4 linked regions of the Homo sapiens genome follow. The protein of the gene in region 3 interacts with the protein of the main gene of each other region in a pairwise test. Each region holds a gene or a part of one and is shown on either strand. Other genes may lie near its edges.

Evidence for each region.
Region 1: the proteins of INTS11 (region 3) and ZIC1 interact in binary tests that used the Homo sapiens proteins (3 or more experiments, as listed by UniProt).
Region 2: the proteins of INTS11 (region 3) and VENTX interact in binary tests that used the Homo sapiens proteins (3 or more experiments, as listed by UniProt).
Region 4: the proteins of INTS11 (region 3) and TBX6 interact in binary tests that used the Homo sapiens proteins (3 or more experiments, as listed by UniProt).

The regions. Positions count from the first base shown.
Region 1 is NC_000003.12:147,411,050-147,417,989, reverse strand, and holds the end of ZIC1 (zinc finger protein ZIC 1), read right to left. Parts: coding exon 6,896-6,940; intron 5,473-6,895; coding exon 5,309-5,472; intron 4,637-5,308; coding exon 4,439-4,636; 3' UTR 1,271-4,438; downstream 1-1,270. UniProt on the Homo sapiens protein: Acts as a transcriptional activator. Involved in neurogenesis. Plays important roles in the early stage of organogenesis of the CNS, as well as during dorsal spinal cord development and maturation of the cerebellum.
Region 2 is NC_000010.11:133,231,319-133,240,854, forward strand, and holds the start of VENTX (homeobox protein VENTX), read left to right. Parts: upstream 1-6,536; 5' UTR 6,537-6,596; coding exon 6,597-6,837; intron 6,838-8,357; coding exon 8,358-8,518; intron 8,519-8,613; coding exon 8,614-8,988; 3' UTR 8,989-9,536. Other genes in the region: UTF1 (undifferentiated embryonic cell transcription factor 1), read left to right, coding at 1-124. UniProt on the Homo sapiens protein: May be involved in ventralization.
Region 3 is NC_000001.11:1,310,222-1,314,722, reverse strand, and holds the end of INTS11 (integrator complex subunit 11), read left to right. Parts: intron 1-357; coding exon 358-422; intron 423-801; coding exon 802-991; intron 992-1,130; coding exon 1,131-1,214; intron 1,215-1,598; coding exon 1,599-1,688; intron 1,689-1,773; coding exon 1,774-1,936; intron 1,937-2,022; coding exon 2,023-2,130; intron 2,131-2,156; exon of another isoform or gene 2,157-2,221; coding exon 2,222-2,283; intron 2,284-2,354; coding exon 2,355-2,497; intron 2,498-2,575; coding exon 2,576-2,705; intron 2,706-2,798; coding exon 2,799-2,864; 3' UTR 2,865-3,062; downstream 3,063-4,501. Other genes in the region: PUSL1 (tRNA pseudouridine synthase-like 1), read right to left, coding at 3,063-3,393, 3,652-3,831, 4,035-4,089.
Region 4 is NC_000016.10:30,088,139-30,097,512, forward strand, and holds the start of TBX6 (T-box transcription factor TBX6), read right to left. Parts: upstream 3,787-9,374; 5' UTR 3,735-3,786; intron 3,397-3,734; exon of another isoform or gene 3,104-3,396; 5' UTR 3,056-3,103; coding exon 2,938-3,055; intron 2,855-2,937; coding exon 2,620-2,854; intron 1,073-2,619; coding exon 805-1,072; intron 702-804; coding exon 555-701; intron 478-554; coding exon 407-477; intron 1-406. Other genes in the region: YPEL3 (protein yippee-like 3), read right to left, coding at 4,572-4,661, 6,651-6,759, 6,965-7,008, 7,114-7,344. UniProt on the Homo sapiens protein: T-box transcription factor that plays an essential role in the determination of the fate of axial stem cells: neural vs mesodermal. Acts in part by down-regulating, a specific enhancer (N1) of SOX2, to inhibit neural development.

The sequences.
Region 1 (6,940 bases), on a different chromosome or scaffold from region 3:
CTGTGACTATCTTTATGAAAATGCTTTTCCCCACAAATACGAACACATGATTCTAAGAACTACACTTGATGCTACAAGGAAGCCAGAACTCTGTACCTAGAGAGGAGGAGATAAATTTGTAATCGGTATTATAAGTTGGAAAAAGAAAAGAAATGTAACTTGGGAATGTGTAAGAGCTGATGTCTTTATATCTAGTCCACAGCCAAGGGCACAAGTTCCTTTATTTTGAGTGTGCCAGACCACCTGCAGTAACTCCTCATAACATCTTAAACTAAATCTTCTCTTTAAGGTCTAGGGCCTTCTCCAACTCACTTCCTGAAAAGCAGTATGCTCAGGTAACAACTCCAACAGCACCGACTCACAAGGGGTCCTAGACACTGATTTAATGTTGGCCTCAAAAAGAAAACTTCTGGAAGCTTTTGGGGCTAGGTGAGGTACTTGAGGGTATAATTCTCTGGCCAGCCCTTTAAAAGTTCTGAGAAAACTTCACAATAAAAGCATCTAAATGCCAGGCCTATCAGCAAAGAAGGTTAGTGCTACTTTCATTGTCAGGAAAAAAAAAAAATAAGAAAGAAAGAAAAAAAAAAGATAAGCAGATGGGGCAATTGAAAGGTTACATCTTTCTTTTGGAGGTGGTTTGCTTTTTAAAGGTTAACTTGAATGCTTGACTTTAAAAAATCAAAATCATCAGCTGCAAACGCTTAAAGCAGTTGGGGGTAGCTTTTGAAGAAGAAAACAAAGGATCTGAAATGTTTGAAATTACTTAGCCCCCATATAAATGGTGCTTGTATATTTATATGCTTGCTCTACAAATGCACACACACACATACCACAACTCATTTCTCTTCATTTCTCAAATATGATTGCTTGTACTCAGGCATTTTCTGTTGACACAACATAACTTTTTAATAACTTGTTAGCTGTTCTAATCATTTGATAGTATTCAGAATACAATGCAATTGCAAAATGAACCAGGACAGCATTCTACCTAAGTCAGAATCTAAAGCTACACACAGGAAACAGCTATTTGCAGCATCTTCAGCTCCTGCTAAAGAGAGTCTAACAATATATTTTGCTGTTCACATTTATGTATTTCAAAACCTAATAGCCCATGAAAAAAAGTATGAAGAATACATCTCAAGAAGCAGATATTAAAGGTACCAGCAAAATAATAGACTACATTTAACTTCGAAGGATTATTTTAGGCCACCTACATCATTAATGACTTTTTCTTTGTGATAGGTGTTGGAAAAGAGAATGCACAGGAGGGTTGGCTTAAATGTTGGCTTTTATTACGTTTACTTGCTGTGAGTAAGATTATTCACAAATGCAAACACACTACTCTTCAAATGTTTTCTTAAAAATTATTTGGCCTTCACAGTCTAAACAGATATTTGAAATATGGAGTCATTTTGAAGTAAACATTTACCCCTAAAATTTATCTTTAAAATATCCTACTTAAATCATATGTCATAGTGTGATATTTAATTGTTACACTGTGGTATTAAAGCAAAAGGGGCATCAGGTACACAACAAAAATTAGACAGTTATAATTCCCAATTTGAGGTAAACTACATCTAGGAATAGGAATGTTCGAAGAAAAGATGAACTCATCATTTACTATCTTCTTAAATGCACCAGCAAAATTACAAAAGTACCACTATTATCATGTTTATCATTATCACACTCATATCAGGTTATCAGACAAGCTGATCTCAATGAAAGTGGGAAGGATTATTAATTGTGGTGTTATCTTTTCTAGAGAGAAGAGATGTCTTTATTCCTCTTTCTATTTTTAACTAATGTCTGGACCTAATGTCTGGAGTCACTTCAAATGCAAATCTGTTAATCAGTTTCAAACTTCCAAACCAATTGGGGCTAGCTTTTGCTTCGCAAATTTTTGGAGCTAGCAGCAATTCCTGCTTAGGTATTCAACTTCCATAAATCTCACTAAACCTTGCAAGGTGGCGCTCTTTTCATGAAAAAAGCCAATATTATTGTTATAATCAGAATAACATTTTTTAAAAAGTTAAACACCACCCTCCCCAGTGTTTGATGTGGTACAGTAAGTGCAGCAAAGTCCTTCCTCAGCAAATAAGACTTTGTTGAAACAGTGACAAATATAAATAGCAAGAGATGAAAAGACAAGTCAACAAAGGATTCTTAAAGAAATTGAACATTTTTATCTTGTAATTGGCCAATGGTATAAACTGAAAAATTAATTTCACTTTAAAATAGATGTATCTTAAGGGGTTGTTATACTTTGTGGGGTTTTTCCTCTTGTTTTCTTTCTCAGAGTCAAATATGGCCTGTGGCTTCCTGAACACATAGAGTGCATTAAAGAATCAGGTCCATGGCCACCCTTGCCCAGTGAGGTCAGTTTCTGCCACCTGCTCTGCACCTCCACACACTAGCAACTACAGCCAAGGGCCTGATTTGTGATCTCCGGCTACGTTGTCTGCCTAATGGGGCGATCATGCAAGCTACAACCAGAGACAAAGAAGCCTGCGTTCCTACCAGCGCAGCTAACTTCATGGAAGCAGCATAGCTTGCAAATCTATCAAACTAAACTGCAAGAAAGACAATCTGATTTAGAGAAAAGGCATTCTGCTACAGTCATTAAGCACAAGTAATTTAGATTTTTTATATTGTCTCCTCATTTACAAATTTACTGTATCAATGCCAACCAATGGAACGAATTTCTTAAGTAAATGAGAAATAAATAAAAGAGATAGAAAGATAATCAAATTACTTAAAATAATCCTCTTCCCTAGATGTATTTTTGAGAGAACTAATAACAGTGGCAAAATCATAGGAATAATAACATATCATAGGAAGTAATTAATTTAAATTAGCATCATGTTTGAAGAATATAAGTGAAACGCTTTATGGACATTTACTTTTGTACAAAGAAGGAAGGCCTGGAAAAGCATGCATCGACATCCTGAAAATTAGTTATGGTCATAAATGGTTTAATTGAAGACAGCAATTTAAAATATGATATTGTAAATCTGCAACTCAGTTTCAGCCCGGGGAATTTAATCTAGGGGGCAGCGGAACCCTCGGCTGCAAGTTCATTTGCAATGTTGCAGAGCGAGCCCCTGAGCTTCTGACAATTCGTCTACATTAATATTGATGTCGCCTGTGCAATCTATTCCTGTTATTTTTATGGTTGTTATTCTACATCTGCAAAGGTCATTTAAATTATACTGCGGCCGAAAATTTGTTTCATAAATTTTGATATAAATACTAATTACACTCTCTCGGAGAGCCAGCAGGGTAGCATTCATTTATCACGTTTATACGACCTGCAGTGACAGAAAGGGAAGGCAAGGGAGACTGGAGAGCTTTTCTGGAGACCCTTTAAGACTGGCAGAAGAGGCAGCAGGTTGCTGGTGGGTGAAGAAGAAATTCCTACCACAATCACGGAGATTTAAGAATCTTTAATAAGGTACGAAAGGTTACCAAACAGTTCTGGAAACTAAAGTGTACATACGAGTTCTTCTAGCCATAAATATTGAAGAGCTGTAACATGGATAAACCGGCCCTTTACATGCGGATAAATATGGAAACTAGGAATTATATACATTATGTGGTTGTATCTTTTGCCAAAAGTAACGGACAGTTATAGTTTATATCTTTTTTAATATCACTTTACATAAACAAATGGAACAGTTTGACACGCAGATCCAGGCTCGTACTATACGAATTCTTGACAGGACATGAAACAACATTTTACTGCACTAAAGTACTTAGACTTTGGGACGAAATGTTTGCACTTTATACAAAAAAAGCACATTAATACCAATAATATTGGGTTAGGTCGACGTGGAGACTGTAATCGTACAAAGTAATTCACATTTTGGTACACATTTACTAGAACATTCTTGCCATTCAGTACAAACAGTTGGCTTTCGGCCGCCCACCCCTCCCCCTCCCCCTCCCCCCGCCCATCCGGTCCCTCCCCCCTCCCCCAATGCAAAGACCACAACGCCACAATCCCACCCACCCGCTCCAACCGAGATATAACTATTTACAGAATTCAACAGTACAGTTTTAAGCTAATAATTCTGTATTTACAAGAAAACAAAGAAAAAAAGAAGCCGAAGCCCCAGAGAGCCCGTACCAATTCGACAAGAAACTGGCCCTCGGGGTTGGCGGCATTTGGTCAGGTGGCCTCCTCCCCCTCGACCCCCTACCGCACCTTGGGTACCAAGCCTTTGCCAAAAAAAGAAAAATAATGAAAGCGAAAGGAAATTTTTAAAAGGTTGATGCTTCCTCTCTTACTCGTCCTGGGTCTATTGGCAGATTTTTTAAAAAAGGATTGCGGGGTCTGTGTGGGGGTTGTTTTGATTCGCAGGGTTCTTTCAGTAATGTTGTGTATACGTGTGTGATCAGTCTCTTAAATAGGGTTTTGTTCGATGTTTTGTTTCTGATTTTAAACGTACCATTCGTTAAAATTGGAAGAGAGCGCACTGTGGCCGGCTGTGTGGTGGACTGCGGAGGAGGAGGGCGATAAGGAGCTTGTGGTCGGGTTGTCTGTGGAGGGAGACACGATGGTGGGAGGCGTGGAGGATTCGTAGCCAGAGCTGGCGGCCGGCGAAGGCTGCGAGCCCTGCGAGGAGGATTCGTGGACCTGCAGGAATAAAGTCGCGTTTTTACGGACATAAAGAGCCAGTGCGGCGGCCGACTAGAGAGGCGAAGGCCGCGAGTGCCCTTCCTCCTGGACCCCTTGGAGCCCCCTGAACACAGGTGAGGCCCGATCAGCGGGACTTTGGGCTTGGTTTCTCTGCACAGGCCTGCAGAAACCGTGCTCCTGGGAAAGTCAGGGTCCCCAAGACTCACAAAAGAAAAATAGGTCTGGGAAGAGGGAGACTGGATATGAGGCCAGAGACTGCACTTTCTTTCCCTGAACTTTGCTTGTCCATGTTTAGGTGAGCCAGAGCTCAGGCCTGGGCGCAGGAGTCCAATTCTTGCGTCTCACTGGCAGCTGCAAGGGCAGCAGTTTCCGCAGCGTCAACCCCCTGCAAAAGCCCTAGCTCTGGGCCAAATTCAGTGGCGGCCTTTGCTCATACTCGCCTCTTTTAACTTTTATTATTAAACCAAAAATTTAAAACGGCCTTGGACACTCCCATCCCCTTTTCCAGGTCCCGCCCTACCTTCTCTGCCCAGTTCCACTGAGTGGAACCTTTGCCTTCCCGCTTCCTCTGGCTCCCGCCACCGCCTGTCTGCCACTCGCCGCCCGACCCCAAGCCGAGAGCCAAGAGAGCTCCTGCCTCAAAGGGGGCGACGAGAGTGCGGCGATTACCTTCATGTGTTTGCGCAGCGAACTGGGATGCGTGTAGGACTTGTCGCACATCTTGCAAAGATAGGGCTTGTCGCTCGTGTGCACGTGCATGTGCTTCTTGCGGTCGCTGCTGTTAGCGAAGCGCCGGTCACAGCCCTCAAACTCGCACTTGAAGGGCTTCTCCCCTGGTGCCAAAGTAGAATGAGAGGGGTCTAATTAGAAAAAAATACCGCGGCCGTTTTTCAAAAACTAAACAAATAGAAAAAAAATAAAACAAAAAGCCAGCAGCCCAGGATTAGCACTTTGCAAGCTTAAAAACCCGGAACGTCAATAAATTCTTACATCTGCAGTGGAATTATAAATATCTTAACTCTATTGTAATCCCTAATACAATTGGATCTACATTTTATTTTTATGTTTAAAAAAATTAATAGTAGGAGGAGTCGGTTTTTAGCATCAGATCTGGAAACTCGTATTACCCAGAGCTACACACGATTTCGGATTGCTTCCACCTGGCTCCTGGTTTCTAGTTTTCACGTTTGCGGCTTATTCTCCTGCCCTATTGCTTTTCTCTCCTCCCCCTGCCCCCTCCCCGACGCTCCGCATCCCCTGGTCGCCTCCTCCAACCCACCCCACTCCCTACATACACTCACATTTTATAGCGTAATCTGGGCCGGAGAGAACTCAACGCCGCAAATTCTTCCCTGACTCGGGCGTTAAACCCGAAGTCTCAAGCATGGTTCTCAGATCTCACCCGGGAAAATCAGAATAGGAAAGGAGACCCAGTTCCCGGCCTCTTGGGGGCAGGGGGCCCAGAATGTTTTGTCTGATGCCAGGCTACAACCCTGAGCTCGTGGGAACTTTTTTTTTTTTTAACTGTTCCGGACCTGTGTCTTGATTATTTTTAAAGGCCAAAGAGGGGAATCTGGTGTTTTGAAAACACCCTCATGGAGTCTAATAGACAACAAGTTCTTCCTTGCCTTCCTCGGACTTTCTCCACCCCTCAAACCCACTCTTAAAACCAGTCACTACTAAAACTGAACTCTTCAAATATGCATAAAGCTCCAAAAGCCTCCTCAATCCCAAATTATTTCCTTTCCCCACTCTGTCTCAATTCTTTCTGTCTCTGTTTTGTTTCTTTCTACGCCCTTAACCCGGCCTCCTCAATTTCCTCAGCTCTTTCCTTTGGCAAAGTCCTCAGTGAAGTGCACGGAGAGAGATGTTGGCAGCAAGCAAGGGTTTAGATTTGTCTGCAGCCTGAGCAGCTGGCGCCTCCGCGGCTGCCGGGAGCCAGCCACTTTCTCCGGCTTCGAAAGCACCAAGGTCTCCGCCAAACCAGGTTTGGCTTCCTGTTCTCCGACCTTTTTTGTTTCTCATTTAAAAAATCTATATACCCAGCTCCTCCTCGTCCGCCCTGTGTGTGTGTGTGTGTTTTCCATAATTTCAAGCCAGAAACTAAAAATCAGCGCACACTTTCCCTGCCTGCCTGCCGGAACCTGACGCCCGGGATCCCACCGAGGCTGCGTTTGTGCGACCTGGCCGCTGACTTTCGGTTTGGGTCCCAGGCCCAAGTGGGAATGGGTAGGGGTCCTACAGCTGTTTCCGTACCTGTGTGCGTCCTTTTGTGGATCTTTAAATTCTCGGAGCGCGCGA
Region 2 (9,536 bases), on a different chromosome or scaffold from region 3:
GACCTTGAACCAGCACGTGGAGCAGCTGCGCGGCGCCTTCGACCAGACAGTGTCCCTGGCCGTGGGCTTCATTCTGGGCAGCGCGGCCGCCGAGCGAGGGGTCCTCAGGGACCCGTGCCAGTGAGTCCCGGCTGCGGCCAGTCTCCCCTCTCCAGGCCGAGGCCCCTCCGCCCTGACCCCTCCTGCTGCCTTCCCACCCCCGTTCTTGGGTATGTTCAATAAAAGGATTGTTTTCCTAGAGTCCGGGCTGTGTAGGAGTGCGGGTCTGGAGACGGGGAGGGAGTGGCGCCCTGCAGTGCTGGGGCTGCAAAGGTCAGGGCAGGGTTGCGACGCTCTCATCACAGAGAGGGGCTCCCACTCGCTCCTAAGGTGTAGACAGAGCTCCGTGGGGCGCACCCAAATGTAGGCCGAGGAGGCCAGGCTCGAGGGTGGTGGGCGTGGTGCCTGCTGCCGGGTCCTGGTCACACACTCGGTTCTCAAGGCCACACCAGACTCTCCCTGCCCCTCCCGGGGAGCCCCACTGAGTAAAACGAAGTGAACGGGTGGGCTCCGCTGGGGGTCCGGAGAGAACCTGAGGCTGACCCCACCTCTTCACTCAATGCAGGGGTAGGGGTTAGAGTGGTCGCCTCCACACTGCCCAGCAGAGAACCCCCTTTGACCCAGGAGTAGCATGGGGGGTTCCGAAGGTCCTCCCATGGCCTCGGGCAGCCTTGGACCACCCGGCTGAACTCTCCCAGGTCCTGGGAAACAAAAGGGGAAGAGAAGCCACAGAGCTCCAGGGAGGATGCTGGTTTTGTCTCCAGGGAGGTGGCTCTGGTCTGGGTGGGCCTAGGGAGGCGCTGAGCGTCTGGGGTGTGATCCTTGGGCAGAGGCTGAGGGCAGGGTCCTTGCAATTTTGAGAAAACCGAAGCAAACCTGCCCAGGAAGCATTTTCCAAGTAGCAATAGAGGGCCCCACCCTGGACCCCTGAGTCAGAAGAGGGATTGGCTGGAGCCGGAGATACAAATGTAGCCTGGAGGAGTTCCGCTAGCATAACAATGCCTGCAAATTAGTGGGCCCATCCAGAAAGACAAGTGGTTTGCCCAGGGCCATGCAGCTAAATGGGGCTGGGGGGGTCCCCGCTGGCCCAGCACCCAGCAGTCCTGAGGGGTTCCCTGTGGGTGGTATGGTTGCAGCCCCTCCTGCACATGCTTTTCTGGGTATCCAGAAGAATAGTTCCCGCTAGTGCTAAAGGCTGCTCCTGGGGAAATGAACGGCTTGCCCAGGTCTGAGGGGGAGGCCTGTGAGACCACGCCTGCAAGAACTGACTCCAAGCCTCACCTCATTTAAGAAACTGAGGCGCCGGACGCTGTGGCTCACGCCTGTAATCCTAACACTTTGGGAGGCTGAGGTGGGTGGATTGCCTGAGCTCGCTCAGGAGTTCGAGACCAGCCTGGGCAACATGGTGAAACCCCATCTCTACTAAAAATACAAAAATTAGCCGGGTGTGGTGGCGGGTGCCTGTAGTCCCAGTTACTCGGGAGGCTGAGGCAGGAGAAGTGCTGAACCCAGGAGGCGGAGGTTGCAGTGAGCCAAGATTGCGCCACTGCACACCAGCCTGGGCAACAGAGACTCTGTCTCAAAAAACAAAAAAACACTCTGAAGGCAGACGCGGTGGCTCACGCCTGTAATCCCAGGTCTTTGGGAGGCCAGAGGCGGGCAGATCACAAACGAGGTCAGGAGTTTGAGACCAGCCTAACCAACATGGTAAAACCCCATCTCTACTAAAAATGCAAAAATTAGGCATGGTGGCGTGAGCCTGTAATCCCAGCTACTCGGGAGGCTGAGGCAGGAGGAGGCAGGAGAATCGCTTGAACCTGGGAAGTGGAGGTTGTGCACTGCACTCCAGCCTGGGTGACAGAGCGAGACTCCGTCTCAAAAAAAAAAAAAAAAAATAGACACCCTAGGCCAGGCTAGGTGGCTCACGCCTATAATATCAACACTTTGGGAGGCCTGGGCGGAAAGATCACTTTGAGCTCAGGCATTCCAAACCAGCATGGGCAACATGGTGAGACCCCGTCTCACATCAGCTCCACCCTGCTGTGTTTCCTGAGAATCTTCAAGCTGCTAAAAGCCTGTTGGATGAGCCAAGCTTGCAAACATTCCCCCTCACATACACAGCCCCCAAAGGTCAGAGTCACAGGCTGAGGCCACAGTGGGGTCTGAAACAGAGCTTAGGTGCACCCTACATGACCCTGTCGCTCCAGAAGGTTACTGCTGACAGCAAGCCCAGGTCCAGACAGCCACATCCCAGCAAACACACCAGCACCCTAAGGGTGGGGGCTGTGCCGCTCTATCACTCGGGTTACTGGACACTCGGCCCTGGAGGAAGGACCCATCTCTGGGCTGGAGCAATTTAGGGGCACCAAGCAGAATTAATCTGCCTTCCTACTCAGGTAGTGGGGCAGGGGCCACGTGCTATGATCCTCCTGAGCCCGGTATCAGAATAATGAATCTGAATACATGGGCCCCGGACCTCTAATGCTTTCTAATCTGGTGCAGAGAGTGTATTTTGGCTGTTTAAATCAATCTAGGGGCCAGATGCGGTGGCTCATGCCTGTAATACCAGCACTTTGGGAGGCTGAGGCAGGAGAATTACTTGAGCTCAGGAGTTTGAGACCAGCCTGGCCAACATGATAAAATCCCATCTCTACAAAATACACAAAAATTAACTGGACATGGTGGCACGCACCTGCAGTCCCAGCTTCACTGGAGGCTCAGGCAGGAGGATCACTTGGGCCCTGGAGATCGAGGCTGCAGTGAGCTGTGATCACATGAGGCGCTCCGGCCTGGGCAACAGTGAAAGCCTGTCTCCAAAATAAGTAAGGCGCTCTGTAGGCATGGCAGGATTAGCCTCCTGTGTGCTGTTTAATGGGGCCAGTGTCTGAGCACAGTTGGTTTAGCGTTACCTTTTTTTTTTTAGATGGAGTCTGGCTCTTGTTGCCCAGGCTGGAGTGCAATGGTGCGATCTTGGCTCACCACAACCTCCGCCTCCTGGATTCAAGCGATTCTCCTGTCTCAGCCTCCCGAATAGCTGGGATTACAGGCATGTATCACCACGCCTGGCTAATTTTGTATTTTAGTAGAGACAGGGTTTCACCATGCTGGTCAGGCTGGTCTCGAACTCCCAATCTCAGGTGACCCGACCACCTTGGCCTCCCGAAGTGCTGGGATTACAGGCGTGAGCTACCGCACCTGGCCGGCTTAGCGTTTCTTTATCGGCCATGCACCAGACCAGCCCCACTTCCTAGTGGACGTGTCGGGGAGCGGGGAACATGGGGGAGTCGGGGAGCGGGGAGTGTGGGGGAGTCGGGGAGGGGAGCGTGGGGGTGTCAGGGAAGGGGGCGTGGGGTGTCGGTGAGGGGGGCATGGAGGTGTCGGGGAGGGGGGCGTGGAGGTGTTGGGGAGCGGGGATCGTGGGGCGTCGGGGAAGGGGGCACGTGGGATGTCAGGGAGGCCGAGGCCACAGGGGTGGGTGTTGGGGAGGGGTTGGGGAATCTCTACAAACTTTTTTTAAAGTCTGGTTAATTGACGTGTAATTCACATACAGTAAAACTCACCATTTGTAGTGTACGGTTCTACGAATTTGTAAAAATACATATAGTTGTGCAACCAAAACCACAATTGAGTTACGGAACATTTCCATAACAACAAGAAACTTTTTTTGTGTCCCTTTATAGTCACCTGCTCCCTGACTCCCAGCCCTGGCAACCATTGATCTATTTTCTGTTCCTATAGTTTCGCTTTTTCTAGAGGGCCATATGAATGGAATCATACAATGTGCAGCCTTTTCAGCCGAGTCTCACTCTGTCGCCCAGGCTGGAGTGCAGGGGCACGATCTCGGCTCACTGCAACCTCCATCTCCCAGGTTCAAGAGATTCTCCTGCCTCAGCCTCCTGAGTAGCTGGCCTCCCCCTCAGGTGGTCCCAGAGTGCTCGGAGGAGGCTCGGGCGAGTCGCGACGGGGCCGGCAGCACGCGCTGGGCCCGGTGTCTGTCCTCAGGCCCTGGACTCGGGGGGAGCGCGTTTCGGGGACTAGCTGGACTCCGGGCTGTGCGTGGGGGCGGTGCTGTCGGCCTGGGAGTGACGCGGGACTTCCTGCCCAGCGCAACCCGGCCTGGCCCCCGAGGGTGGGGGACAGGGCGACGCCCGCGGGGACCACGCTCTGGGGCGTGCGGGGCGCAATTCACGGGGCTGGGCTGCCCCAGGGGCTGGGAGGAAGGAGGCAGGGGGGCGCCCAAGTCTCCTACCCATGGCAGCGCATCAGGGCGCGTCCCAGAGCCGGGGGTGGACGGAGGCTTGGAGGCGGAGGCTTTGGGGACCCCCAAGCCTGGGCTAGAGCAGCCTCGGCGGGCTCTAGAGGGAGGGTGGAGGGAGGGGCCCGGGCTGCAGGAGGCGGGGAGGCCTGAGCCACGGTGGTGGGGCCGCTGGGCAGGAGAGAGGGGCTGCCTGACCCTGCCGTGTGAAGGTGAGGTTGTCTTCGGGCTTGGGGGGATCGGAGGGGGCGGTTCAGGTGGAGGTGGTGGCGGGGGGCTGGGAAACCGGCAGGAGGGGCTCTATGTAGAGCTGGGGGTGGGGGTGCTGAACCACGTACAGAAGGGGGCTGAGACACCGGGGCCCTGGGCCCCGGAAATTAGAAATGGAGAAATGGAAGGCTGGGTGCTGGCGTTTCGGAAATGCATGCTCGTGGTGTTCCTCTTTATGTAAGGGAAGCTTCTGGGCCTTTTCCCTGCCTGTCGAACGTTCTGTATGTTTTTGCGGGATGTGTGAGGTGTGCTGTCTTGCTCCACTTTGAGGCACCGCCCCCACTGCGGGAGTGCTGGGGACCTGCCCCATGGGGCATCCTCGGGGCCAGCCCTGTGGCCACAGGCATCTGGGCCCTCGCTGCCCCTGGCCGGGACACACTGCCGGTCCTGTGCAGTGGCTCAAAGCCCCTCTACCGGGGGTGACCCGGTCTCTCCGGAGATGAAGTGCAGCGGGGGTCTAGGCCGGCTTCCTGGCCCCCCACCCCTCCTGGCTTTACCCCCGAGGCCACGTCCAAAGCCCCCAGCGCCCCACCCCCGCCAGCCTCCCCCTTGAGGGCCCAGTGACCTAACTGGGCCGGCAGGGTCCGAGGAAGACCAGGGTCAGCGGCGGCACGGTCCGTTCCGCGACCCCTCTCCTGTGACCCCAGGTAGGCCGCCGATCGGTTCCCGGCTGAGGTCCCGCCCCAGCGCCCGCCTCCCGGGCTCCAACCTCTTTGCTCAGCCCGGGAGGCTCGGCTGGCTGGGGCGGGCGTAACCGTGGGGCGAGGCCCGCCGGTCTTTCTGATTTCCGCGGGCGGCGTGGGCGCTGAGGCAGCCGCGGTCAGGACCTGGCCGGGAGTCGGGGCTGCTCCGTGGACCCCGCGTCTGCGCCGAAACCCCGCATGGCTTCGGGGGCCGGACCTGCGCCTCCGCCTAACTCCGGCCGCCGGAGACGCCGTGCGGACCCCAAGCCAGTGCGCGGAAGACACCGTCCTACCCTCGGCATGGCTGCCTCCCACCCGGTCACGTCGGTCCCCGCGCCCCACGCCGACGCGCAGGCGACCCGGGGACGCGGAGACGCAGACAGCTCGGGACTCAGGTTCGTGGGAGCAGCGGCCGCGCGTGGCTATGACCGTCCCGGGGGCCCGTGCTCAGGGCGTCCCCGTGAGGTTTGGGCGCCACAGTCACCGGCGGCTCTGCCCGCGCCCTGGCCACAGTGGGGACAGCCTGGCTTGGCGGGGACGCACCAGTCCCGCCGCCGACGCGGAGTTCCTACCCCGCCGTGCGAGGCAGTGGCTCCGGCCCTTCCAGCTCGGGATGGAGTCAGGGAGCCGCCCGCGCCCGAATGCAGAGGCTCCTGCGATGGCCCCGGAGTGAGTCCCCCAGAGGAGCCGGATTAGGGCTGGAGGCGGCCGAGTCCCCCGAGAGGCCCCTCCCGACATTCCCGCCCCCGCGCGCCGCTCCCCGGGTCCTCCGCGTCTCTTTCCCGGGAAAGCCTCCCTCGGTTCCTGCGCGGCCGCACAGCCTGGACGCAGCGCACGCGGGCACCGGCCTGACTCTCCCACCCCGAAGCCTGCTCCCAACCTAAGTCCGCCCTGACTCTCCCAGCCTGAAGCCTGCTCGCCCTCGGGTGTCCGGGCTGGGCACAGGCGCCAGCGTCCCCCTGGAGAGGAGAGGTCGCCCGGCACCTCCCAGGACAGGCCCAAGTGGGAGTGGGACCCTCCTACCTTCCTGCAGCCTCGGCCCGCGGGGTGGGGGGTTGGGAGAGATGAAAGGAGGTGACCGATCCCGAACCATCGCCTCTCCATTAACCAGGGCCCGCAGCCCCGCCCCTCCCCCAGACATCGAGGAGCCGGGGAGGTGTGAACGGCCTCCTTTGTGCCTCTGAATCGAAGGCAATTAGGCGCTGCTTATCTGGGCATTAGCCGTGTATGCAAACCGGGCTCCCGCCCCCTCCTCCTGGGCTTATAAACGCCGCCGCCTGGCGAGGCCCGAGGTGGATCCTGCGCCTGGCCAGCCCCGCCTGGCCTTCCCTCCGGCCCACCTGGCCGCCATGCGCCTCTCCTCCTCCCCACCTCGTGGCCCGCAGCAGCTCTCCAGCTTTGGCTCCGTGGACTGGCTCTCCCAGAGCAGCTGCTCAGGGCCGACCCACACCCCCAGGCCTGCCGACTTCTCCCTGGGGAGCCTCCCTGGCCCAGGCCAGACATCCGGCGCCCGGGAGCCCCCTCAGGCCGTCAGCATCAAGGAGGCCGCCGGGTCCTCAAATCTGCCTGCGCCGGAGAGGACCATGGCCGGTAGGTCCGGGTGGGGGGGGTCCCTTCCTTCCCAGGTGGAGATGGGAGTGGGGGAGAGGCCAGGAGCCCGGCGGCTGCACTCCCCGCGGTGCCCTGCCCACTAGGTCAGGGCCGGGGGCGTTTCCATGAGGGCCGGCGGAGGCCTTGCCGGCGCCCTCACTGGAGCGCAGCTTCCCTCGGAACCAAAGCCTTGACGGGGATTTCCTCTCCTTGAGCCCCCGGTGGGCTCCTCTGCCTCCTTTTGTCACCCCGTTCCTCAGCTGTGTCTTCGTCCCCCACCCCGGCCTGGTGCCGAGGGACCGTCCAAGGGGTCCCCGTCCGCACCTCCCTGCCCTGATTCCGGGCGCTCACTGAAAGTCTCGATGATTTGCCAAGCCCCCCGCCCCCGCCCCCCAGCACAGCCGGTGCCTGCTCAGCGTCTAGGCTCAAGCCCATTCCGGGTCACCTGGAGCACAGCTGTCTTTAAAGAGCCTGCAGGTTCGCTGCAGGGGTGGCGGTGACCCCGATGCCTGCAGAAACTCTGAAGTTCCCTCTGTGGCCGCCCAGATGCTCTGTTGTCTGCTGAGAACAAAGGTTCTCTGCGTTTGTGTTTTAGTCTTTGTGACATCATCACCACTTTTAGGTTTAAGGTAGTACTTGGTCAAAAGTGGGGTTGACATCATCTACAAGTTTTCATTTTTAAAAATTTGACTGATCCTTATGGAGTGACTTTGTACTTAAGGGAAATGAAAATTTAAATGTATTCTCCCCAGCTAGCTATCCTGCCCCACCCCAAAAAAGCCAGCCATCCCTGTCCCGCAACCCCCTTTCTGATGCCAGTCCTACAGCCCTCCCTGCCAGAAGGCATTTGCTTTTTGGGTCTACCATGTGCTTTCAGGCTAACGTTAAGACAGATTTTGTAAAATACGCTTCCTTCCGCAGAAACTCCAGCGAGCATTTTGGTCAGACTTGCATTTAATGTCGAGCTCGATTGGCCACGTTGGCCTTTCCTGGGACCCAGACCCAGCTCCACAGACCACCTCGTGGGGCCGTTTGGTGCCAGCCCCCATTCCTTAACTTAGAAATTAGGAAACAGACTTGACCACAGTGGGCCTGGGGATTAACTGAGTTGGCCTCCGCTGGCTGAGGAGACGGAGCCCGGGACAGGGATGGGTGCCCCTGGGTGGGTCGCCAGGCCTTTGCATATAATGGATTCTTACCTTACCGGCCTGGAAGGCTGTGGGAAGGGCATCCTGGGAACCGGCTTCTGGAAGGGAAGTGTGGGATGGGGCGGAACTGAGTGGACTGAGCGGAGGGCAGGCCCAAGCTGCTGTTAACATTCCCTCCCCTCTTGAGCCCCCTCTCTGAGCCCCCTTTCCGCATGTGACCTGGGAGGCGGCGGGGGTGCTGCTGGTCACTGTCAGGTGAGAAGATCTGCCCTGCCCAGCCCCCAGCATGGCTGTCTTCACCTGTTACCCGTGGGCACGAGCTTGCCCCATGGGGTGGCATGTTGAGCCAAATGCCCTTACCCTCTATGTCAGGGTTGAGTAAGGAGCCAAATACCTTGCGGGCCCCCCGTGTCCGCACAGCCTTCACCATGGAGCAGGTCCGCACCTTGGAGGGCGTCTTCCAGCACCACCAGTACCTGAGCCCTCTGGAGCGGAAGAGGCTGGCCAGGGAGATGCAGCTCTCAGAGGTCCAGGTGAGGTGGGCCGGGCAGGCTGGGGTGGGCAGGGGTGGGCAAGGGTGGGCTGGTGGCCTAGTCTCACCCCTGTTCTGATCTTGCTTTTCCTACAGATAAAAACCTGGTTTCAGAATCGCCGCATGAAACACAAACGGCAAATGCAGGACCCCCAGCTGCACAGCCCCTTCTCGGGGTCTCTCCATGCGCCCCCAGCTTTCTACTCAACGTCTTCTGGCCTTGCCAATGGCCTGCAGCTGCTGTGCCCTTGGGCACCCCTGTCCGGGCCCCAGGCTCTGATGCTGCCCCCTGGCTCCTTCTGGGGTCTCTGCCAAGTGGCACAAGAGGCCCTGGCATCTGCGGGAGCTTCCTGCTGCGGGCAGCCTCTGGCGTCCCACCCCCCTACCCCAGGCCGGCCTTCGCTGGGACCAGCCCTGTCCACGGGGCCCCGGGGCCTGTGTGCTATGCCACAGACGGGGGATGCATTTTGAGGAGGCACCTCTGACTCCCACACTCGCGGTCTTGCTGATCGCACCTGGCTCCTACCTGGAGGACTCAGTTGTTCTGTTTACATCCTGGTGGCACCTCTCACCCTGACCCACACAAAGGTTCTGGAGATTACTGGAGAATATATATAAATATATATATGTACGTATATATGTAAATACACATATACGTATATATAAATATATATATACATATGTGTGTGTATATATATATATATTTTTTTTTTTTTTTTTTTTTTTGAGACGGAGTGTTGCTCTGTCACCCAGGCTGGAGTGCAATGACGCAATCTCGGCTCACTGCAACCTCCGCCTCCTGGGTTCAAGCGATTCTCCAGCCTCAGCCTCCCGAGTAGCTGGGATTACAGACACCCGCCACCACGCCCGGCTAATTTTTTCTATTTTTAGTAGAAATGGGGTTTCACCATGTTAGCCAGGCTGGTCTCAAACTCCTGACCCTGTGATCCGCCCGCCTCGGCCTCCCAAAGTGCTGGGATTACAGGCATGAGCCACTGCACCCGGCCCTGAGAATATAT
Region 3 (4,501 bases):
GGGTACTGCATTTTCAGGCAGGGAGGGAAGAAGATTTGCTCAACATTGAGGAGGAAAACTCAGAGACCCTTTCCTAGGGAGCCCCTTTTCCCTCCTACCTCAGGTGCGGACGAAGCCCTGGCCAGGCTCCTTCTGTCTCTCATGCAGCTCCCTTCTGTCTCTCATGCGGCTCCCTCCTGTCTCTCATACGGCTCCCTTCTGTCTCTGGAGAGCGGCTGGGACGGGACTGGGAGCAGATGAGAGGCTAAGGTCCCTATGAGGCCGCAGCTCTTGGGCACCTGGCCGTGCCCTCACTGGACGCTGCCTGCTGTGTCGAGGGGCCATGTGCCCAGGGCTCCTGCCTTGTGTCCCCCTCAGGTGCTGATACCTGTGTTCGCGCTGGGCCGCGCCCAGGAGCTCTGCATCCTCCTGGAGACCTTCTGGTAGGTGCCGCCAGGACGGCTCTTTAAGGAGCCCCTGGCCCGGCCTGAACACAGTCCAGTTGGTGGGCAGCCCTGTCCAGCGTAGCGGTGGCATCTTGGCCCTGCTTGCTGCTGTCCTGGGGGGCCGCTCGTGTGCTGTGTGACCCCAGGAAGCCTGTGACATCCCGTCAGCGCCACCGTGTGCGGCTCTTGTAGGGGTTCCTGGTTCTCCGCTGAGCCCGGCTGCTGCAGGGCTTAATGGGACAAGTGGTCGCGACTGGACTCAACCTGGCCCGTGCGTGGGCTGTGCAGACACGGGTGTTGGGGGTGACCCGGCCGAGTCCTGCCCTGCAGCATTCTCCCCTGTGGCCACTGTGCTGACTGGGCCGGTGGTCCCCAGGGAGCGCATGAACCTGAAGGTGCCCATCTACTTCTCCACGGGGCTGACCGAGAAGGCCAACCACTACTACAAGCTGTTCATCCCCTGGACCAACCAGAAGATCCGCAAGACTTTCGTGCAGAGGAACATGTTTGAGTTCAAGCACATCAAGGCCTTCGACCGGGCTTTTGCTGACAACCCAGGACCGATGGTGAGGCCCGCGGCAGGGCCGGCCAGCACATCCACACCCGTCGGTCTCCTGTCTTCCGCAGGTGTCTGGGCTTGGGCCTGCAGTGGGGGTGGGGGCATCTGCTGCCCTGACCCCCCACCTGGCCCTGTGTGTCCTGTAGGTTGTGTTTGCCACGCCAGGAATGCTGCACGCTGGGCAGTCCCTGCAGATCTTCCGGAAATGGGCCGGAAACGAAAAGAACATGGTGAGGGCATGGTGAGGTGTGGGAATCTGGAAGCTGGAGGCCGACGGGTTGTCCTTCCACCCATGCTGTCTCTGAGCTCTCACTGGCTTGGCCTCGTGCTGGCCAAGGGACGTGGCTGCTGCTGCTGGGGAACGGGGGCGATGTCCGCCTGGAGCTGCTCAGTCTCTGTGACACAGCTTGTCCACCTCGGGCAGAACAGCCCCAGCCCAGCCCTGGACAGTCTTGTGCCAAAACCTGAGCCCTTTGGAGTCTGCAGCTAGGCTTGGTCGGGCGCCGCTGGCAGGTGGAAACAGCTTCCAGGGGTTCAGGCGGGGGCATCCCGGGCAAGGCCTTGAGGTGCCAAGGCTGGAGTTCCCTGGCTGTGAGCTCTGTGCCTGCCCCCAGGTCATCATGCCCGGCTACTGCGTGCAGGGCACCGTCGGCCACAAGATCCTCAGCGGGCAGCGGAAGCTCGAGATGGAGGGGCGGCAGGTGGTGAGTCTCGACCCCGCACTGGGCTGGCAGGGCCGAGGGGCACCTCCTGGTGGTAACCACTGTCCACGCCCCGTGGCCTCTGTAGCTGGAGGTCAAGATGCAGGTGGAGTACATGTCATTCAGCGCACACGCGGACGCCAAGGGCATCATGCAGCTGGTGGGCCAGGCAGAGCCGGAGAGCGTGCTGCTGGTGCATGGCGAGGCCAAGAAGATGGAGTTCCTGAAGCAGAAGATCGAGCAGGAGCTCCGTAGGCAGCCGGGCGGGCGGCGTGGGGCCCACCTCGGGTCAGCACGGGCAGCCTGGGCTGAGGCTCTCTCTTCCCCCGGGGTCCAGGGGTCAACTGCTACATGCCGGCCAATGGCGAGACGGTGACGCTGCCCACAAGCCCCAGCATCCCCGTAGGCATCTCGCTGGGGCTGCTGAAGCGGGAGATGGCGCAGGGTATGCGGGCTGGGCAGGGCAGGGCAGGGTGCTCGGGGCAGGCGGCTGGGAGCGGCCCTCACATTGATGGCTCCTGCCACCTCCTCCGCAGGGCTGCTCCCTGAGGCCAAGAAGCCTCGGCTCCTGCACGGCACCCTGATCATGAAGGACAGCGTGAGTGCCAGGACGGTCTCTGGAGGGGGGAGGGCCGCTGCTGCGCTCACTGACCTGTCCCTGCCCCACAGAACTTCCGGCTGGTGTCCTCAGAGCAAGCCCTCAAAGAGCTGGGTCTGGCTGAGCACCAGCTGCGCTTCACCTGCCGCGTGCACCTGCATGACACACGCAAGGAGCAGGAGACGGCATTGCGCGTCTACAGCCACCTCAAGAGGTGGGCGCCCGGCCCCGCCCCCCCCCCACTCCCTTGGGCCCTGGAGGCCAGGCAGGGTCTCACCGAGCCTCCCCACAGCGTCCTGAAGGACCACTGTGTGCAGCACCTCCCAGACGGCTCTGTGACTGTGGAGTCCGTCCTCCTCCAGGCCGCCGCCCCTTCTGAGGACCCAGGCACCAAGGTGCTGCTGGTCTCCTGGACCTACCAGGTAAGGGGTGACCCCCACCCCACCGCGGTCAACACAGGTATCAACATTCCTCCCTGTCCTGCACCACCCACAATGCTTTTGCCTCTGCCCTAGGACGAGGAGCTGGGGAGCTTCCTCACATCTCTGCTGAAGAAGGGCCTCCCCCAGGCCCCCAGCTGAGGCCGGCAACTCACCCAGCCGCCACCTCTGCCCTCTCCCAGCTGGACAGACCCTGGGCCTGCACTTCAGGACTGTGGGTGCCCTGGGTGAACAGACCCTGCAGGTCCCATCCCTGGGGACAGAGGCCTTGTGTCACCTGCCTGCCCAGGCAGCTGTTTGCAGCTGAAGAAACAAACTGGTCTCCAGGCTGTCTTGCCTTTATTCCTGGTTAGGGCAGGTGGTCCTAGACAGCAGTTTCCAGTAAAAGCTGAACAAAAGACTACTTGGTACTCTCTTCTTGGTGTACATGGCTGTGTCCTGCACTGTGCCCCATCCCGCCTGGGACAGAGACGGGCATCCAGGGTGCTGGGACCCGGGCAGGGAGGCTACTGTGGAGACCAGGCAGCAGTGCTGTGGGCCCCAAGCAGCTGTGACTGCCCTGGCTTGACCAGCACAGGGTTGGGCCTGGTGTGGCCTAACTTTGGCTTGAGTGTCCAGGGTCATCCGTGGCTCCCGAACTGTGGCCCCTGCAGGGTGCAGGAGGCAGCACCTGTGGACGGACCAGACCCTGCGTCAGCCTGGGGCAAGACCGGCCCAGCACCCTCCCCACCGCTGAGACCACTCCCATGACCAGGGAGTGGGCCAGCCCAGGACGGGCTACGGGCTGGCCTGAGGGACTGCAGCCCTGGGCGGGGGGCTGCTTCACCCCCAGTTGCTGCCGTCAGTGGCCCCTGGCCCCCCACCCCATGCCTCGGCCACAGTAGTCACTGGGCACATGACAGGAGCTTCTCGTGCCTGTTTTTCTTACCGAGGTTCCCGTACAGCACTGACTTGAGGAATAAGCCGTGGGCTGGGGCTACACGTGTCTGGTGCTTGCCCAGGGGATCTTGGCTCTCCAGAATCGTCTTCACCTGGGCAGGTGCCAAAGCCCCCAGCCCCACGGCCACCAGCACAGCCGTCATCCTCCGTACCTGTGACCCAGAGCCACCTGTGACCCAGAGCCGCCCGTGACCCACCAGCACAGCCGTCATCCTCCGTACCTGTGACCCAGAGCCGCCCGTGACCCACCAGCACAGCCGTCATCCTCCGTACCTGTGACCCAGAGCCGCCCACGACCCAGAGCCAAGACTGCACAGGGGCCTGCCCACCCTCAGCCCCACCCCCTGGGGACGGCCCCAGAACAGAGCCTACCTGTCTATACAGGAAAGACTGGCTCTCAAACTCCAGGTTCCAGAACCGCAGCTTCCTGGAAAAATACGTACCTGTAGGTGTCTGTGGGGCAGTGTTTGCCATCCTCAGCCTACTATGTGGCCTTGGACGGGAGAGTGACAGGGTGGGCCTAAAGACGAGCCTGGTTCCCACTAGCTTGGCCACCAGGGGCCCTGGCTGATCTCCTGCCCCCAGTGAGGCCCATTGGAGGGGCTTAAAACCAGAGAAACAATGCTTGGGCAAGGAGGCAGCAGGACCCTGGAGGCTGGGCAGGTAGCCTGGCCATCCCAGAGGGGCTTGCCCTGGGCCCTCACCTAGGGTCCTGGTGCAGGGTCTGGGAACGTGGCTGGTGCGGGTGCCAGAGACCCCCAGTCCTGTACCTGCTGCTCTGCCACAGAAGTCTGGGGCTGGCAGAAGTTCTTCCCCCCTTCAGGGCTCACCCCAATAGG
Region 4 (9,374 bases), on a different chromosome or scaffold from region 3:
ATGTTGGCAGGCTGGTCTCGAACTCCTGGCCTCAGGTGATCTGCCCGCCTCAGCCTCCCAGAGTGCTGGGATTACATGCGTGAGCCACCACACCTGGTCTCTCTTCTCTTTAGAATGGCTTCCTAACAGATGACATTTTATTTATTTCTCTTGTCTGCTTGTCTACTCTCCCCACTAGAAATCAGCTGCATGAGGGCCGGGGCTTTGGTTTGCTTTGTTTGTTTTATCTCCAGTGCCTGGAACTGTCCCTGGCACATAGCAGGTACTATATAAGTATTTGCTGAGTCAGTGAATGAATGTTTTCACTTACCACTGCATTTCTGATGTCCAGCACGGTGCCTGGCACACAGTGAGTGATTAATAAACATTTGTTGAATGCATGAACAAATGAATGAACAACTCCCACCTCTTACAGTTTCTGCCGTTCTCCCGGAAGCCTTTGGCAAAGGGATTGGCTGCAATCTTCAGTTGTGTGATCTGGGGACACACATGCAGGGTCAAAGCAACTGCGGTCTGGGCAGGGGGCCACCACCCCCTCAAGCAGGGTCACTCACCTGTGGGTTCTGGTAGGCTGTCACGGAGATGAATGTGGTCTCGGGGAAGCGGAAGGAGGCCATGCCCCCCCAGTGCTGGCTGCAGAGCTGGGCTGCCCGAACTAGGTGTATGCGGGGTTGGTACTTGTGCATGGAGTGCAGGATCAGCTGGGAGGGAGGAAATGGGAGTGATTCCCTGCCCTGCGCCTCACCCTTGGCCTCCCTTCCAGCACCCCCCAACCCTATCCTGGAGTCCCAGCCTGGGCCTCACGTGGCCGTGGGGGTCCAGCGTGCTGTTGGTGAGCTTGACACGATGGAAAGACACAGGCTGCCGCATCCAATGTGCACCAGTGGCAGGAGAGTCGGGGTGAATGTAGACACGGTCAGGCAGGCGGGGCTCTGCCTTGCCGCTGGGCTCCCAGCGCCGGCCCTGCCAGCGGTAGCGAGCCCCATCCACCGGAATCACATCCAGAAGAAACAAGTAGCGGGCCTCGGGGTCCAGGCCAGTGACTGACACTCGGCAGGCAGGGAACATGCGCCTGTGCAAGGGAGGGGACAGGAGAGGCCTGGAGCTACCCACTGGCCAGGGGTGGGCCCAGCACCAGTAACGGGACATAACAACGGGCTCCCCAGAGCTGTCAGAGAAACATCAAAGGAGGTGGAATTAGAACCCAGAGGGCAGGCTGGAGGCTGTGGCTCACACCTCTAATCCCTATACTTTGGGAGGCCAAGGTGGGAGGATCTCTTGAGTCAGGAATTCAAGACCAGCCTGGGCAACATAGAAAGACCCCATCTCTACAAAAAAATTAAAAAATTAGCCAGGCATGGTGGTGCACACTGATAGTCCCAGTTACTACAGAGGCTGAGGCGGGAGGGTCACTTGAGCCTGGGAAGTCAAGACTACAGTGAGCCACAATTGCACCACTGCACTCCAGCCTGGGCAACAGGGCAAGACACTGTCTCTGAAAAATGAAAAAGGGCCAGGCGCAGTGGCTCATGCCTGTAATCTCAGCACTTTAGGAAGCCGAGGTGGAAGGATCATGAGGTCAGAAGTTTGAGACCAGCCTGGCCAATATGGTGAAACACCGTCTCTACTAAAACTACAAAAATTAGCCGGGTGTGGTGGTGTGTGCCTATAGTCCCAGCTACTCGGGAGGCTGAGGCAGGAGAATCGCTTGAATCCAGGAAGCAGAGGTTGCGGTGAGCTGACGAGATCGTGCCACTACACTCTAGCCTGGGCAACAGAGCGAGACTCCATCTCAAAAAAAAAAAAAAAAAAAAAAAGAAGCCAGAGGGCGGAATCTTAGAGCTGGAAGGTTTTCTTGTCTCATTTTACATTTGGGGAAACAGGACAGACGGGTTAAGTGATCTGTCACACAGCAGGTTAGGAACAGAGCCATGACTCCTACCCCTCAAAGCCTATTTGCAGAAGCAGGGGTGACTAACTTTCTTGCTAGGAGCTTCCTGTCCCCACCCTCCTCTCCTCCCCTGATCTCCAGCACCAGAATCTGCAGCTCTTAGATGAATTTGCTTTAGAAAAAATATACCCTGCCTGCAGTAGGGCCGAGGACTTTCCATGCTAGGGCTTGAGTTCCTGCCCCAGCTAAAGACCTCATCTAAGGTCAAACACTGACCGTGTCCCTGCCTCTAGGGTGACCCTGGACCTAGTCATATACTGACTCCTATTCGAGTTGCATACTGATCCCGAATCCTGGCCAGATTTCCCTGATGCTGGTCAATGGGCTGGCCCTTGACCCCCTGTCCTTGTCTGGATGCTGGTCTAAGCCACACACTAACCTATAACCCAGAGGGACTTCCTGACCCTGCCCCAGACTGACCCATGACCCTTGCCATAGATTGGTCCCTAAACTCAGCCACAGACTCCACAGACTGGCCCTTAACCCTTGTCACAGAGTGACTCCTGATTCCTGCCACAGAGTAACCCTTGCCCCAGGCCATAGTCAGATTCTAGGCCTAGGCAGAGCTCTAGCCCCTCGGGAACCACCCAGTCCTAGCCCCCTCCCCAGGGACTCTGCCTTTCCCAAGAGACCCCCACCAGAAACACGGACCCTGGCCAGCCCCTCACCTCCCAGCTTTGGTGATGATCATTTCTGTTCCCACAGAGCTGAACTCCTTCCATAGCTCCCGGTTCTCCAGGCTCAGGCTGACCCCCGGGAGGGAATGGAGGGCCTCTGGAGCTGATGGGGCCGGCTCAGTGCCCATGGCAGGGGGCAGAAGGGGCAGAGGTGGGTGCGCGGCCAGGGTGCGGGGAGCAGCCTCCATCCCGGAGAGGAAGCAATCCAGTTTAGGGGTGTCCAGTTCTGGAAGCCGGGGAAGAATGAGGAGCCAGCCGAGGGCCACAGCCCCCCTATTCTCCTACCCAGGAGCTGGTCCCAACGCTCACCGGGGTAGCGGTAGCCCTCCGCTAGGGCGGGTGGGAAGCTGGAGTCGGCCCCAGGTTGGGCGGGCCCCAGGCGGTAGCCGGCCCCCAGGGACGGGTACAATTCTCGTGGATGGTACATGTTGTAGTTCCGTCTGGCCTCAGGTCTCGCTGCTTAGGGCCCCCGGTGCTGCGAGATGCCCCCTTTATAGCTCACAGCTCAGCCCCTTCCAGATCCAGGATCACAGCCCCTCCCCTCTTTGGGGCCCTGGAGTTGGGCTGGGGTGGAGACCCCTGGGGCCTCGAAGGGGTCCGAGAGGGGGTCGGATACCTGGGTACGGTCCCCTCCTCCCCTCCCTCCCCACCCCGGGAGGCTTCATTAGCCTCGACCCCCTGCCCCCTCATTACATAATTAACTCCTCGGCTTGATTGATCCCCAGGGCTCGGACAGGGACGCAGTTTGGCGCTTCCGGCCAGCTGGTCCCCGTTCCCACGGTGGGGAGCCCCGGCTAGGGATAAGCTGGGGGGCGGGGCCTGGAACCTGGACGGAGCCAAGAGTCCCGGGACACACCTTGGCGCCCCAGACCTTCTGGCAGGTGACCGCCCTCCGCCCCCCTTCACTTGGAGGCCGGGCCCTGGAGGGAAGCAGCGTGAACAGAGGGAAAGTGCAGGCTAGAGGGACGCGGCCTGAGCTGATTTCACAGGGCACTCGGGGCCGCGAGGAGGCCGCAGCCCAGTCCCGAGCACCGTAGTCCTCCCTGGTCCCCATGCTAAAAAAACCTCCATCCCGAGCCAAGCCTCCAAAGTTCGAAGGCGCTCACAGTCCGACAGCTTCTGACGCCTCGCGCCAGGGTTTCCCGAAGGTCCCGCGCTGGGGAACCCTCGGAACTACACTTCCCGGCAGGCTCAGCGCTGAGGCGCGCCCGAAGGAGCCGGACGGACCACGCGGGGGCCGCTGGGAGTTGCAGTCCGACCGCGAGGGGGCTGCGAGGCCGGCGGCGCGGTTGCCTCCCTGGGACGCTGCCCCTAGGCGGCGGCCAAACGCTGCAGATGAGCAGACGCAGATCAGCCGAGGTCACGGCGTAGGCAGCCAGAGTGGGCTCAGGACCTCCGCCAGCAGTGAAACCGTCCCGGTTCCCGGAGACCCAGCTTGGACGGCTGTGCCTACCCCATGCCCCGCCGGGGCTCAGAACCGCACAGGTCTATAGGGGCGGAAATCTCCGCTTGAGCTCCCCCTTCCCGGATTACACGCGAGCCTGAGCTGTCTCCACTCCATTGTTTTATTATGTACAAACGCTACAGAACGAGGGGGACAGACACGCGTGGGGTAAGAAGGGCCTGGTGGGAGGAGTTCACAGAGCAGACGGTGCACTGGGACCAGGAGAGCAGAACACAGGCCATAACTATAGGGCAGGTGGGGCAGGAACGGGTTAAAAACGAGATCCAAGCCAGCCAGATCGCAGGAGGTGCGGGGGCGTCGTCCCCCTTCTGTTCTCCCCCCAAGGTCACAGTGCATGCAATAAAATATATATACAGGAGCTAGATCCGTCCTCTGCAGGGGCTCTGAGGGTCCAGAGCTCCCTTCGGGTGGCGGGAAGCCAGTGGCGCTCCCTGGCGGCCAGGCCGGGCTGGAGCCACATGCGTCGGGGGAGCGGGGGTCAGTCCCAGCCGTTGTCTTTGATCATGTGGTTGAGTTCAATGATGTACTTCCCCTCTTTGTACTTCTGGCTGCTCTCAAAGGCCTGTTCCTGAAAGGAGGGGCGGGACCGTCATCCCCGGAGCAACAGTCTCACCACAAGGCACTGGGGTTGGGAAGTGGACATGAGTGGCCCCATTTTACATATGAGGAAACTGTGGCCCAGAGGGGCAGGGCCGTATTTCTCACAAACACAGAGTAGAATAGAACTCCCTGACTCAAAGGTACTTTTTTAAGTACTAATGATGGCTCCAACAGAGAAGATAGGGAAGTGGCTAAAAGATTTCACAGTTCAGGGTTTGCAAACTGGTAGCTTCATGGCCATTTTGGCCTACAACATGTATTATGTTTGGACAGCAGACAGTTTAATAAAAATAACTTTAAAGTATTAAAATATAAGTAGGCCTTGCTCACTCCAGTTTGCCCAGCCTGCCCCCAACTCCCAACCCTGCCAATCTATGCTACCCTTTACACATCTACAGTATCTGCTTGGCCTTGCAGGCACTTGAGGTTTTTTTGTTTGTTTGGTTTTGAGAGGGAGTCTTGCTCTGTCGCCCAGGCTGGAAGTGCAACGGCGCGATATCGGCTCACTGCAACCTCCGCTTCCCGGGTTCAAGTGATTCTGCTGCCTTGGCCCCGAGTAGCTGGGATTACAGGCGCCCACCACCACGCCGAGCTAATTTTTGTATTTTTAGTAGAGATGGGGTTTCACCATGTTAGTCAGGCTGTTCTCGAACTCCTGACCTCAGGTGATCCACCTGCCTCAGACTCCCAAAAGTGCTGGGATTACAGGCGTGAGCCACCACACCCAGCCTGGCACTTGAGTTTTTGACCTCTTGTTTAGGCCAGCTCTTTATTAATTATTATTATTTTTGAAACGGAGTCTCGCTCTGTCTCCGCTCACTGCAAGGCTCTGCCTCCTGGGTTCACGCAATTCTCCTGCCTCAACCTCATGAGTAGCTGGGACTAGAGGCGCCCGCCACCACACCCAGCTGATTTTTTTTTTTTTTTTTTGTATTTTTGGTAGAGATGGGGTTTCACCGTGTTAGCCAGGATGGTCTCAATCTCCTGACCTTGTGATCCACCCGCCTCGGCCTCCCAAAGTGCTGGGATTACAGGTGTGAGCCACTGTGCCTGGCCGGCCAGCTCTTTATTTGGTAGAGGTCCAGAGTGGCCAAGCCACCTGTCCAGAGACACACAGCCAATCTGTGGCAGGGTCAGCAGCGAGCTCAGGTCAGGGCTGGCTGGCTGGCTCTGCCTGGGACATCCACCTCACAGAGGCACCACAGTTCCAAGCGACGCCTGAAGAATCCTGTCCCTTGCAGTGTCCCAAGAGCATCTTCCTGAGCATCTAATCTGATCCCTGTAACAATCCTGGGTGCTAGGCAGTGGCTTTATCTTCCACTGAGAGATAAGGAAATGAGACTCAGGGTAGTGAAATCAGACCCTGGACAGCAGCAGTGGCAATGAGGACTATGGAAAGGGAGGCTGGTGAACCCAAGCTCCATGTTGTTGCAGAGTCTGGGGCAATTTTTCTGATACTCTAAATGACAATATAAGCTGGTGACCAAGGGTTTGGAGTGAAAAAAAAAAACCAACCAACCAACTCAGATTCTGGTCCCTATTCTGTTACTTACCAGTTGGGTGATCTTGGGCAAGTTACCTAACATCTCTGGGCCTCCCTGTCTTCTTCTGTAGAGATAATAATAGCTTCTACCTAGAGGATCACTGCAATGATTGAATGAGATAATAGACGCCAGGCACACAACAGTGCAAGGCACATAAACATTCCATAAATGGTGACTCTGATTATATCCTAACTCTCTAATGGGGATCCAAGTGCCTGGGAGAGAAGGGATGGGTTAAGAGAAAAGTTCTACACCCCTTGCAAGGTGCAAGATAAAGAGAATGTGGTCAGGGATGCTGACTTGTGTGAGCTCGGCCTATGCAATCTGAAAGGCTATAGGGTGACAGCTTGTCAGGAGGAGGTGTTGGAAGGTCAGGTCAAAGGCTAGCCTGGGGTCAGAGGTGGGTGACTCACATATTTCCAGCCCAAAGTGGTCTTGCAGTTCTCGCAGTGGATGTCGGCGACAGCATGGAGGCCGGTCAGCAGCACCCGCTCCTCGGCTGGCCCGCAGCCCACGTTCACCCTGTGGGGACATGGGGTAGTCCCAGGGAGGGTCCTGCCATCACAGGGCCCACCCCCTCAAGCACTGTGTCTGTCCTCAGCATCCAAGAAATGATGCTCACAATTTCCTGCCTGCACCGGGGAACTCTGGGAGTCTCAGCAGGATGCCAGGGGTCACAGGTCACAACAGAGGTCAGGGAAAGCAAGAAGGGAGGCCAGATACTCACACTGAGTTGAAGAGGTAGGCACGCCCCTGACTGCCCTGGAAGGACTAAAGGGTGAGAGGGTGGGAAGAGAGGAGGGGGTCAGGGCTGCCGGTGGGGAGCTGCCAGGCAGCCCCTATAGGTTCCAGCCCCACTGTGGCCTGGTTGGTTACCTTGGAGATGAGGTCGTCGTGGTTGGCCAGGTGAGCGCGGCAGTGGGCACAGCTATACCTCCGGTGACAATCATCCAAGTAGGCCTGAAACGTCTTGGGCTTTGAAATCCGCACCATGGCGGGGGCCGGGGGCAGTGGCCCCACGCGGGGAGCGGCCCACGGGGAGCAGAGGGAGCCCAGTGCCTGCCGGGGAGGGAGTAGGTGGGCTGTCAGGACCTGGGCCACACACATGCGAGGCACTCCCAGAGCCGTGGGGACTCGCTCTGTCACACTGGGCTGCTCTCTCCTTTCCCCAGAGCCAGCAGCCTCTCCGGGGACCAGAGGCGTCTCGGTTTTGACTCAGTGAGGAGGCCTCAGGTTGCATCCATGGGGAAACTGAGGCTCGGAGGTGCCCAGGGTGAGTCACCCGCCTGCTTCCGGCCTCACCCTTGCTGACCTGGCAGCTGAAGCTGGAGGAAGGGGCTTTGGAGGGGCTGGGCTGTCAGTTCCCAGTTTCGGGGGAGCATGGGCGGGTAGGCACTGGTTGGTCCTTGCGACCTCATCTGGAGAGCAGTGGGGTTCACTGGTGGTTTAGGGGGTTCATCGGGGAGAGGGTCCCCCACCTGGAGGAGGTAGGAGGCCTCGCCGTGAAGGTTGAGGGTCACCTAGGAGGGGAGGGGCTCTCACCTGCGGGCGCCAAGGCCTCCTCTACGCTCAGGGGCTCTTACCTGCAACGCGGAGCCTTACCTGGACTCCGGGGCTCACCTGGGGCGCGGGGGTGGGGGCGGGCGCCGGGGGAGGGGGCAGTCCTCGCGGGCTGGGCAGGGGCGCGGGGCGACACGCAGCCCTGACGGCGCGGGCCTCACCTCGCCTGGGCGCGCGGGGCCCGGTCCGCCGGGGTGGGCTGGCCTGGGAGTGGGGGGCGCTCCTGGCGGGCGCCGTCCCCCCCGGGCCCGGGTTCGCAGGCGCCTGGACTTGTTTACACCGAGCCCAGCTGCTGCCGCCGCTGCGGCGGGAGGGGGAGGGGACCCGCCTCCTGTCCCGGCGGCCGCCGTGGCCAATGGGCGCTCCGCATGCAAATGAGGGGGCGCGTCACACGGCGGCCGGCGCAGGCCCCGACCGCCCCTCCCCCGCCGCCCGCTCCCGCCGGCCCGGAAATGCGGCTGCGGCCCGCGCGCCCCAGGCCTGCTCGCATTCCTGCTTGTGGCCCGCGCAGGGGCGGGGTCGGAAGGTCTAGGCCGGGCGCGGAGCGAGGAAGCGGGTGGCGCTGGGACGCATGCTCTGGGGGAGATGAGTATAATGACCCGCGTTTGTCCGCCGCCCGTGCCCCGCTCAATCCCCGCATCAATCCCGTGAGGCCGTTTCTCCCGTTGGCTCCACTGTACCGGGGGCTGAGGCCCAGGGAGGTCTCGCGGCTCCCTAGGTTATCCAGCTAGTAAGAGGCGAAGCTGGAATTCTCACTGTGGGCCCATTCCATGGCTTTTGCCAGAGCGCCAGGGACACACTCAGTTCACCTTCTAGCAGGGAAGACCCAAAGATGCGCGCCCCTGGCAGCCAGGGCGTCGGACCAGGCAATTCCTACTGTCCAGCATCACCTCCTCCAGGCCTCTCGGATGCCTCTGTTGGGACAGCTAAGTTCCTCTTCAAAGACTCAATTTCCTGGTCATAAGCTGTAAACAGATTCTACTCCCGCTTTTTCTTCTTTGTCGCACGTCTACCCTATTTGGGAAAGTTTAAACCTTAGCCAATCGGGATCAGCTCAGATTGTGCGGTCCAACCCCCCAGCCAATGGGGAAAGGACACAGAAACAGGAACTGCGTTAGGGTTAAAAACCACTTCCCTCCTTTGTTGGCGGGTGCTCTTGGGATTGCAACCAGCGCAAGCAGCACCCTTCTGCAGAAGTAAAGATGCCTTGCTGGGAAGTCTTCTGTCTCAGTGCTGGTTTTTCTTGACTACACTGAGCACTTGTTTTCAACAAATTTGAGGGTCTTCTGGGATCCCATTCTCCTTTGGGAGGGGTAGCGATTACTTTTCCTCGTGAGACACGTCCCACTGCCTTGTTGCAGTGGCCCAAGGAGCGGAGGATCGGGTCCACCCAAAGTGAGGAATAAATCCGGACTTTCAGCAACGTGGGCAGGAAGGAGCCTTAAAATTCCCAGGCAAGTGGGTAACTCTGTGCACAGACCAAGGTAAGAAAAGTTGCTACTGGGGCGACAAAGTATTTCCTTGGTGGTTGGGGTCACTTGGAGGTTGAAAGTGCATGGCTGAGACATGTCAGTGGA